Regions from separate parts of the Homo sapiens genome. Here region 2 is linked to region 1. Evidence: fine-mapped expression QTL. A gene starts in region 1. The other region holds a variant in brackets. All regions are shown on one strand. Distances are between the middles of the regions.

Region 1 (5,000 bases):
AACAAAACCATGAGAACTATGGACTATGGAACACCAAACTAGAGACCCCAATAACCTGGTGAAAGGTAAAATCTGCCCTTCAATGTTCCTTCCTGAAGTAACTTAAGATTCTCACATGTACTGTTGCTGGTGCTATTACTCCCTCCAGAAATTCTCAGAAACTACCAAGGTCAGCAAACAAAAGAAACATGAGAACGCTGATAACCAGAATTACAAGTTACATGTTCATGCAAAAAAATACAAGAAAAGGGGTAGAGAGAATTCATATAGTCCAAACGTCCTATTTTTAAATTAGAGAAAATAAAACAGTAAAATACCAAAGACATTTTGAGTTCACCTGTGGAACACCAATTCCAAATACTTCAAGCTTTCACTCCACCCAAAAGCTGGAACGATAAAGTTTAAAGGGTTAAAGTTAGATGTATGACACAGCACATGAGTTTAAAAATTGAGAAAACGAATGTTGACACTTTTTTATATTTAATACATAATTCTTCAAGAATTTGAAGGTATTTGCTGAAACCAAAATGGCAGCCCAGCGAATTAGAAGACGAGCGAGATCTAAAGGAGAGTTTATAGTCTCTATTTTTGAGTTCAAGTGTACTAACCAGCCAAGCTAGTCATGGTTAAGGAGTCCTTACCTAAGGGTAATCAGCTCCGAGAGGGTTAAGTACCTGCTGGAAAGTTTCCTAATCAATGCACCCCAAATCATTCTTCCTCAAAAGTGAAAGTATACAAACGTTAAGTAGATTTAGGGACTCATGGGTTTCCAGGTAAAAGAACAGTACACATACTTCTCTCCCCGAAAAATAAAGCATGAATATTTAATCTATACCTACAACTTGCTTATTTAAACTAAAAGACAATCTGAAGCAATTATATACACCTGTAAACTGCACCGTGTAAATTCAATTAACGTTGTAACTATGGAACTTCCAAAAAATAACATGCTTAATTTAAGCAGGTTCTACTAGAAATTTTGCAAATTCTCGTGTAAGTTCTAGTCGCTACAGAAATCCACACAAATAATTTAAGAAGCCATCTACACACCTGCTGTATAACTCTTTAACTTATTTCACAATGAATGAAAAATCAGCCATTTATCCAACCCTAAGCCTCACGTCACAAGAATCTGAAGACCTGATCACTACCAAACTCGCACATGCTAATATTTGCAGAAACAGTTAAAAATAGAAAGGTAATAGGTCCAAGCTAGCTTGGAAGCGATTTCTGCATTCAAAAACCCCTTTCACGGCTTTGGCCCTCTGCAAATAAAGCGGGGCGAAGGAGGTGTAGGAGGCCGATAACCCAGCTCCCACTCCAGGAGCCCAGGGCCGGGGAGAAACTGCGGGTTATCGCGGGAGGGTGGGGGGAGGCGGACAAGTCGTCAGGCCTGATAGCCAGGCGTAGCCGAGGCCTAGCTCCCCAGCTCCAAATCACTCCACCTCAGTAATGGCGTTTGGTGTCAAGTGGAACCAGACCGGGTAGGAAAGCGGCCGCCGGGCGGGGGGCGGCCAGCCCCCAAACCGACCCGGCCCCCGGGTGCGGACGGCGGGGGGGCTGCCCGCCACGCCCGGAGACTCCATCCTCCTACTCGGCCCCAGACAGGACGGGAAGGGGGAGGAGGGGGAGGGACGGAGCCGTCAGCCATTTTCCCTTACAGTCCAAAACACACAGACACGCTCTCGGGACACCGGCTCCACACACAACACGGGCCCGCGCGCCCGCCCAGCCCGGGCCGGAGGAGGGGGAACGGGGAAGCCCCAGCCTGGCCGGCAGCCGCCGAGGGAAGAGGCTCGCACACACGCACACCCCCCTCGCCCTCCTCCCCTCACCCACATCCAGCTGTTGGCCCCGGGAAAGAGCGTCGCCCCAGTGCAGCTGGCCACTCACCGCACGACACAGACGTCTTCTCACAACCAGGGCACACGGAGGCGGGAGGCACCAGGCGACGGTGGGGCTCGGTCCCGGGACGAGACCTACCCTGGGTGCATCCCAGGCCCGGGGGTGACCGGCAACAAAGTGTATCGAAAGGCTGCGGCGGCCGGGCTCGGGGCTGCGGGCGTCTCAACCAAAAGGCTGCACACCGGCGCCGGAACTCGCTCCTCGCCGCGCCCGCCTCCTCCTCCTCCTTGGCCGGCGACGGCCCTCTTCCCCTTCTCCCCTCAGGCTGGGGCTCTCGCTGAGCTCAGACGGGCTCCGGGCGGTGCGTTTCTCCTGCGTCACCTCCTCCTGCTCCTCCTCCTGCAGCGACGGCTTCACCTTCCCCTAGTCGCCGCCTCTGTCCCCGCTCCAGGCCTGGTGGCTTTGAAGTAGCTCGCTCCTCGCTCCCGGCGCCGACCCAAGCACCGGGCGCTAAGGCGGCCGCCTCCCGTGAGAGAGAGGCGGCGGCGGCGGGCTCCCGCGAGGCCCGGGAGCTGTGTAAGGCGGGGAGGGGCTAGGCGCGACAGAGGCCCTGACGGGGCCGGGTGCGGAGAGGTTGCGGCTCCGGCGGCGGCGGAGACTAGCGTCCGCAGCCGCGGATGCCCGTCCTCGTCAATATGGCGGATCCGGCAAACCAAAAAAAAAAAAACCGCTCGGCCAGTGGCGGCGGCGGTAGCGGCGACGGCGGCAGCAGCGGTGGCGGCGGCGGCGGCGGCGCAGACTCCCACTAGCCCCAGAGCCGCCCAAGACCCGAAGTTCTCCGCCCCCGTCAGGGCCCGCCCCTTTCAGGCCCCTCCTTTCGGCCCTCCCCCTGCTCCTGCCCAGCCCCCTCCCGCTCAGCTGCCCCCTCTTCTCTCCCTCCACCCCGGGCCGTCAAGGCTGGGAGAGCAGCGCGAGCCGCTGAGGGGGCCGGGCTTCGGCGCGAGCCGCCGGGAACCCGGAGAGCTAGGGTGGGGGAGGGGAAGACAATGCGGTAAAGATTGTTCGCGCAGTACTGTTTCTTCCGGCTGGCCCCTTCAGGGTCGTGCTACGGCCAGAAATCCTGTTCCATGCCCCTCGGCTCAGGAGCGGGACGAGGGCAGAGGTGGCTCTAGGACCGAAGTTGGGGAAGGGAGGCCCGAAAAGATCTGGCACACCACTCGGGAGGGGCTGGGCGGCAGGGACTGGCGGGGTGTGTGGCCACGACAGGGTTAATCGCGTGAGCCGCAGCCGCGTCGCTCATAGTTTGACTCGGGCCGCTTGTTTTTGTTCCATTGTGAACCGTAGCCCCGCCGACAAGAACCCGGATGATGACGTCACCGGCCTCCCCCTTTTCCGGGACCGTGGGGGGAGGGGCGCGGAAAGATGAGATCTCGAGACCACGCGCTGGGCGGTCGCCGCCGCGGTGCCTGGAGGTCCCGGCGGTGCAGCTGACCCGCGTCACGTGACGCACGAGCTGGCCGGGCCACTGGCTGCGGGGGCGCGAGGTCCCGAGGGCCTGGCCACCTGCTTGGCGCCGATAGGGGGAAGGTGTGGCTATCTCCCGCAGCGGAAGGAGGGGGCGTGGGGAGTGAGGTCCTTTTCCCCACCCCGCGAGGGAGGTGCTCTGAGAAACTCTTTCACACGATCATGCATCATCACTACCTCAAAGCGTTTAGGCGTCCTCAAAGCGTTTAGGCGTCCTCACAGCCTAGCTGACGGGACTGACCACCTTTTTGGCCATAGGAGCCCTTCAAACAGACCAGCAAAGAAAAAAATTATAAAGTGCCCCAGACGGCTTAGCGAATAGGCCGTACTTGATGTGGCAAGATTAGCCTCCATTGCCAGATCATCAGCACAATTCGGTGTTAGGACCCGGAAGAAACTTATGAACCCATCCGCTGTGTCATGGACTATTTTCTACATGTTTATATTCCAAAGTGCGGGCATAGGAAAAACTTAGGCTAATCTCAAATTAATGGGGTGCTTGGAACAAATCTGTACAGTCTACCTAGGATGCCCAAATGAAGAGGAAATTAACAGTTCCTAATTTACAGATTTCCTTTTGACTTAAAAAATACCTGTGGACATCAAATGGCATGCAAAATCATAGTAAAACCCTACAAACCGAGATCTATTTTATAGAGAAGAGGGTTGAATTTAGTTATGCTATGATTATATCAGTTTGTAATAAAAGACTGTTAAAAATGGAACCAAACTAATGTAGGTGACAGTGAAAGCAAGTTATTGGTATCTTAAATTTTTAAACCATTTCTCTATTTAGCACAAGATTGTTTACAAATTTTTCACCACAAATTATCTAATAGGGTATCCAAGATGTATCATTCATAGCCCTAATAACTCTTAGCATATGTTACCTTGTTTTTATAATTATTTCCATGAATCATTTGCTTCCCCACTAGCTCATGGGCTTCTAAAAAGCAGACACGACCACCCGCGTACACTATAGGCTGTTATTTTCTATTTTAGATAAGGAAACAGAAAGGGTAAATGATTTGCCCGAAGTCAGGATTGGAAAGTGTTGAACACTGGTCTTTTAACCCTATCAAAAGTGCACCTTTAACAAGGATGTCCCCTCTCACCAATTCTGTTCAATATTGTACTTGCAGTTCTAGCCTGAAAAAGAAATGAAAGGCATCCAGATAAGAAAGGAACAATTAAACTATCGCTACTTTCACATGACATGATTTTATATATAGAAAATCTTGGGAAATCCATTATAAAAAAAATAAAGCCAATAAGCAAGTTCAGCAAAACTGCAGGATATAAGATCAATATTTAAACATCAGTTATAGTTTTACACACTAGCAATAAACAATCTGAAAATTAAGTTAAAATTCCATTTACAATAGCATCAAAATCAATAAAGTTAAAAATCGATTTAACAAAAGAAATGCAAGATTTGTACATTGAAAACTACAGAACATCATTGAAAAACATTCAAGACTGAAATAAAAGTATTAAGATAGCAATACTCCTCAAATTGATCTACAGAGTCAATGCAATCCCTATCAAAATCCCAGCAGGCTTTTTTTTTTTTTGCAGAAATGGACAAGATGATGCTAAAATTCATACAGATAAGGAGTTTCCCCCCCACC
Region 2 (5,531 bases), 150 kb before region 1:
TCACAACGAATACCACTCTTCCTCAAATGGAGACAAAAATGACTCACAAGCCCCTCACCTGGCACAAGGGGGCTTGTAACTTCAAAGCAACCAAGGTTGGGCTCTTCCTCCAAGCAGAAAAATTCACAGCCTTTTATATGTCAAGTTTTCTCTCAACTAGGAAGTCGTTAAAGTTTTTAAGTACATTACATATTTTGTTAAGGAGCAGCAGGAAATATATAAATCTCCTCTCAGATGGTGAGATGGTACACCTAACTCATCCAAATAAAGTTAACCTATTTCACTCGTTTAAAGAGCTTGGAATTGAGGAACTTTTAAATTAAAAAAACTATCAACTGGGGCCAGGCGCGGTGGCTCACACCTGCAATCCCAGCACTTTGGGAGGCCGAGGCGGCCAGATCACCTGAGGTCAGGAGTTCAAGACCAGCCTGGCCAACGTGGTGAAACCCTGTCTCTACAAAAATACAAAAATTAGCTGGGCGTGGTGGTGGGCACCTCTAATCCCAGCTACTCGGGAGGCTGAGGCGGAAGAATCGCTTGAACCCAGGAGGCGACGTTGCAGTGAGCCAAGATTGTGCCACTGCACTCCAGCCTGGGTGACAGAGCAAGACTCCATCTCAAAGAAGAAAACAACAAAAAAATAAAAACAAAACAAAAATCAGTTGGAATTGCAAACACCGTGTGTGACTTTCACTCAAAGTATCGGTGTCAAAATGTCCTACAGGAACACCTAGAAGCACAGGTTGACTATACAGTACTACAAATAAGATACCCAAAGCTTTATCTTAAATACCTGCCCCTTTTAATCACAAAATAATGCAATGCTCAATTTTGTTTCTGCTTTGTTCAGTTCCAAGTGTAGCCTTTTGACAAAACATTTCCCTATTAACTGAATTGTAAAAAATACAACCAAGCTTGTGCTCATTAAATATACATGTATATAAAAAACATACAAAAAGTACAAGATTATGTTAGGAAACTTTTACAGTGTCAACATCCTGATTTCTCAAAATCTTCAGTAGAGGGCCAAAGGTCAAATCTTTCTGTGCACAAAAACTTGATGTGACTGAAATCCTGAATCAGTGTCATGCCTAGGCATGCTATGCACAGAATGAATTTTAATATGCAGTCCTCTTTTAAAAAAAAAAAAAAAGGACAAAAAAAGTAACCAAAAAAAAAACCAAAAACACACCACAGGACAAAAAGTTCTTCTTAAATCAAATTCTATTTGTGAATTCAGCAAAATAATTTCTATAAAATAAAACAGCAAAATATTTAAATAGAATAGGGTGGGCTGTATCTGTTTGCAGGGGTATTTGGTTTTTAGACAGGTTCCAAAAAATTACACACATTCAAGTTACCAATTCTCTTTTAAATACAGTATGAACTGAGGATTTCCTTATTTTTAATCAAATGTTTATTCTGAAATTGTAATATCTCAATTATATCAACCAGTAGTTTCTTTTTTAATGAGACCCTGCTTTGAACGTTAAACGTTTTGGAATAATGGAAAAGGAGCTAGGACAATTCTTGCTTTCAAGTAAAATTGTGACTGAGCAGAAAATCAGCCAGCTATCTTGGTGCAGAGAGGTACTCCAAGTACCGTGGGGTTCTGATGACTTCCACGTCACTGGGATCCAACAGAAGGAAAGTTTTAGAAGATTCACCTAATAAACTCTACCAAAGAAACAAAACAAGCACACCAAATACAGTCTTATATTATGCTCCAGCATCTTGGCATAGCAAATTTTTGCATATTTGTTTTAAATCTTTAAAAATTCCCATTACTGATACGTAAGTGTTCTTTATTCCACCCAGAGATTGAACTGTCAAACATTATATATAAGGAACATATGTGCAACTGAAAATAGACTGTCACATTTCTCCCCTTGTTTTATATTTTAATATTCTAGGTGTAAGAAGTAAAAGCTCTGAGTAATACAGCTGTCACTTCTCGGACAACTGCTGTCATTATGGTAACTTTTTCCTCATTGGCTACACTAACTTGGTGTGAAGCCATGCTAAATGTTACAGCATAACTATAGCTTCAAAGTGATTAACCTAATATCAGAATAAAAAGGCAATGAAAAAAATCTAGAAACAGTGTTACATCACCAATTTTCCACATCAACCAAATAATTTAAAGGTTACCAGCCTTACATTGCTCATAGCAAAATTGACTCCAGTGGCAAAGAATTAACATGAAACTATTGGTGTGGCTGACATGGATGGGCTCTGTTTTGTTGCTGTTGGTTTTTTTTTTTTCTTTTTTGTAAAGGAGCTGATCCAACTGCCATGAGGCAGGCAACACTGGTTGCAGAGTGCAGTGGGTGTAACAAGAAAATTAACTTTTGTAGTTTGTGTAGATCTGTGAGTCTCATCAAGAAAAAAGTTTCTTGCTTAAGAATTAACAGTCAACATTAATATACTATATACACCTTTGCCATTTACACATTAGCATCAGGCCATTTATTACAAAACACTATACACTTTCCACTGCAGGCGGGTTA[T/C]ATATTGACAGCAAATTTCTGCAGATAAGACAGTGAATAAACTCTCCACTCCATGTTGATTAGGAATAGTTTTTCTAGTTTTAAATATTAGCCAGACACAGAAAAAGGTTGGACTGTAAGGCCTGGGTGCACAGTCTTGATGGAACCAGTTAATTATGTGCATTTCATTGATCCTTGGTTTGAGGTGGGGATACTTCTTCACTGCCTTCATAATTTTCTTGTGCTCGTTGGCCAGTTCTCTGAGGGTTGTTCATGTGATGTGCTGCTGGGCCTGTATATGGCTGTCCATGCACATGGTTATTCTGGGAAAGGAGAAAAGATCTGTATGTTAAAACTTTTCACATAGTAAAACAACTTCAAAATCATGGTCTGAAGTCTCTGGAAATGTATACTCTTATTCTTGGGACTTACTCTGTAAATACCCTTGGACTACTATAGTGCAAAACAAAAACAAAAACAAAAACAAAAAAAGGCTTGAAAAACGTAGTGTAAATGCAAACCCCAAAACCCTGAATAAGAGCAGTGATTGTGTAGGTCCACATAAATCTTTGGCCAAAGTGATTTTTAGTGCCAAAAATTATTTAGACTCAAGTCTGGCAAATAAAGGATTAACCCACTGTTGCTCTTGGTAAAAAATTTTCAGAGAATGATCTATGAGCATCTATTGACTCTTCCACATGCTAAATCCGATTGACTAACCATGATGTAAGATATATAGGAGCAGTAACCCTGAACTCACAATAATGCTGATTAAAAACAGAACAATGTTCAAGATGATAAAGTAACCAGGCATGATTAACATAAGAGCTTTCTCAGGGTCAAAGGAAGTTAACCTTCCTTGTGGATTTGGTTCCTTAACCTTTTAAAATGTCTGAACCCTACAGTGCTCTCATTTTTCTGTACATGCTCCATCAGCCAAGCCAAGATTTTAGGCTTAACTTTTTTTTTTTTTTTTTTGAGATGGGAGTTTCGCTCTTGTTGCCCAGGCTGGAGTGCAATGGTGCTATCTCGACTCACCACCACCTCTGCCTCCTGGGTTCAAGAGATTCTCTTGCCTCAGCCTCCTGAGTAGCTGGGATTACAGGCATGCGCCACCACCATACCCGGCTAATTTTGTATTTTTAGTAGAGACAGGGCTTCTCCATGTTGGTCAGGCTGGTCTCAAACTCCTGACCTCAGGTGATCCACCTGCCTCAGCCTTCCAAAGTGTTGGGATTACAGGCATGAGCTACCGCGCCTGGCCAGGCTTTACTTTCTATAGATGAAAATAAGTACGCTGAATGTGTACTTCCTAACTATTCAGTTTGCTTCTATGTACACAGTGAAATGTAAGAAAGAATGCCTGAAATGTTTCTCCAAGTATGGTTCCTGGACCACCAGCAGCATCACTTGGGAACTTGCTAGAAATGTACATTTTCCAGCCCCTTGAAGACCTATGAAATAAGACACTTTAGGGTAGCATCTAGCTCTCTGCTGGAGCAACCCTTCCAGGGAGACTCACGCCTGTGCAAGTTTGAGTACCACTGCCTCACAAGAGCTGATTTAGTCACATTTTGGTTTCAGAAAGAAAAAGTTATCATTTAGAATGTTTCTTCATCTCATTTCTTTTGCTATTTACTAGTTTATTTACTTTAATCACCTATGGAAATCTACCCAAATCCTTTTTTTTCCAGTGATTTTTACCATCACTGAAACCTGTGGCTAAGTAACCAAGGACTTCTTACTTCATTGCCATATCTTAATAATGTTTTTGGAATCCAGGTGAAGATTTTACCTCACCGGAAATGTCACCACAATCCTTTGCACTAAACAATGATCATTTTATGTTGATATAAATTCTCATACAGTTTTATTAACTACTAGCACAAGAAGGACACCTTCTTGACAAGGAAAACCCTACAGTGGTTAAGTTCAAACATGTTACACCATGACCCCCACTCCAAACCATCCCTCTTCTGGATCATGCTCCCAAAGCTAGTCTAGATAATCCTACTTCTTACTTTGTAGTCACAACAAACAATTGAGCCATCCTCTAAAATTAAGCATAAAACCCAGTTCTAGGGGATAAAAGCATAAACTGACTCCTGTTTACCTGTTGATACTGAGATCCAGGTGAATGGGGGTACAATGGGGCATCTTCAGGTGGAGGCGACTCATGTTCATCTGGAGCATCTTGGTCATCTGGCTCCTAATTTTGAATATTTCAAGATAAAAAATTACGTAGGCAAACTCAAGTTTACTTTTAACTTTTTCTATTTGAAATAAATTTTAAAAATCTACAAAACTGACCCATTAGCAACTTTTCTTTTACTGCAGATAAAGAACTTGGGGAAAAAACAAAAAAAAAAAAAACAAAACAAAAAACCTGATTTGCATTCTCTCAGAACTACTACATTTCAGGCAATTTCACAGAAATTTCTCCAAAAGAAAGCTCCCTTCATTAGCTTAAAATGACATAGAATAAACATTCTTTTCTTTTCTTTTTTTGAGATGGAGTTTCACTCTTGTCACCCAAGCTGGAGCCCACTGGCACGATCTCCGCTCACTGCAATCTGTGCCTCCTGGGTTCAAGTCATTCTCCAGCCTCAGCCTCCCAAGTAGCTGAGATTACAGGCGCCTGCCACCACGCCCGACTAATTTTTCTATTTTTAGTGGAGATGGGATTTCACCTTGTTGGCCAGGCTGGTCTTGAACTCCTGACCTCAGGTGATCCGCCTGCCTCGGCCTCCCAAAGTGTTGGGATTACAGGCGTGAGCCACCATGCCCAGCCGAATAAACATTTTTCAAAACCCAAAACTTCAACATAATCTTTTAATAATATCATTAATACATAAACACTGGCCTATAAAATAAAGAATTACTTTGCTCTCTTCCATTTCTATCTGCTGCACACTGGTGGCTTTTTTTACCTCCTCTGGACAGAGTTCACAAGCTTTTGCAAGTGTCATCCTAGCACTATGTGATCTCTCCAAGAAATAACCATTGGACGTTTCATTGCTTTGCACTGGGGGAGACCAATTG

The links. PIP is the estimated chance that this variant, and not a neighbour inherited with it, causes the effect.
Region 2: its variant is fine-mapped to the expression of USP9X in whole blood (TOPMed, PIP above 0.99).

What each region holds. Positions count from the first base shown.
Region 1 is chrX:41,083,003-41,088,002 of GRCh38, reverse strand. It overlaps USP9X (ubiquitin specific peptidase 9 X-linked), which reads right to left and starts at 2,558. Exons shown (of 45, transcript NM_001039591.3): 1 at 1,894-2,558. RefSeq lists silencers at 1,364-1,823, 2,524-2,903, 3,334-3,403 and enhancers at 1,948-2,485, 3,024-3,563, 3,313-3,607.
Region 2 is chrX:41,229,668-41,235,198 of GRCh38, reverse strand. USP9X (ubiquitin specific peptidase 9 X-linked) reads right to left here. Exons shown (of 45, transcript NM_001039591.3): 43 at 5,420-5,531; 44 at 4,603-4,698; 45 at 1-2,812. The coding sequence ends at 2,675. Among named protein-coding and RNA genes, the nearest start is that of LINC02601, 43 kb to the left of the region's middle. The variant T/C (reference allele first, on the strand shown) is at 2,511.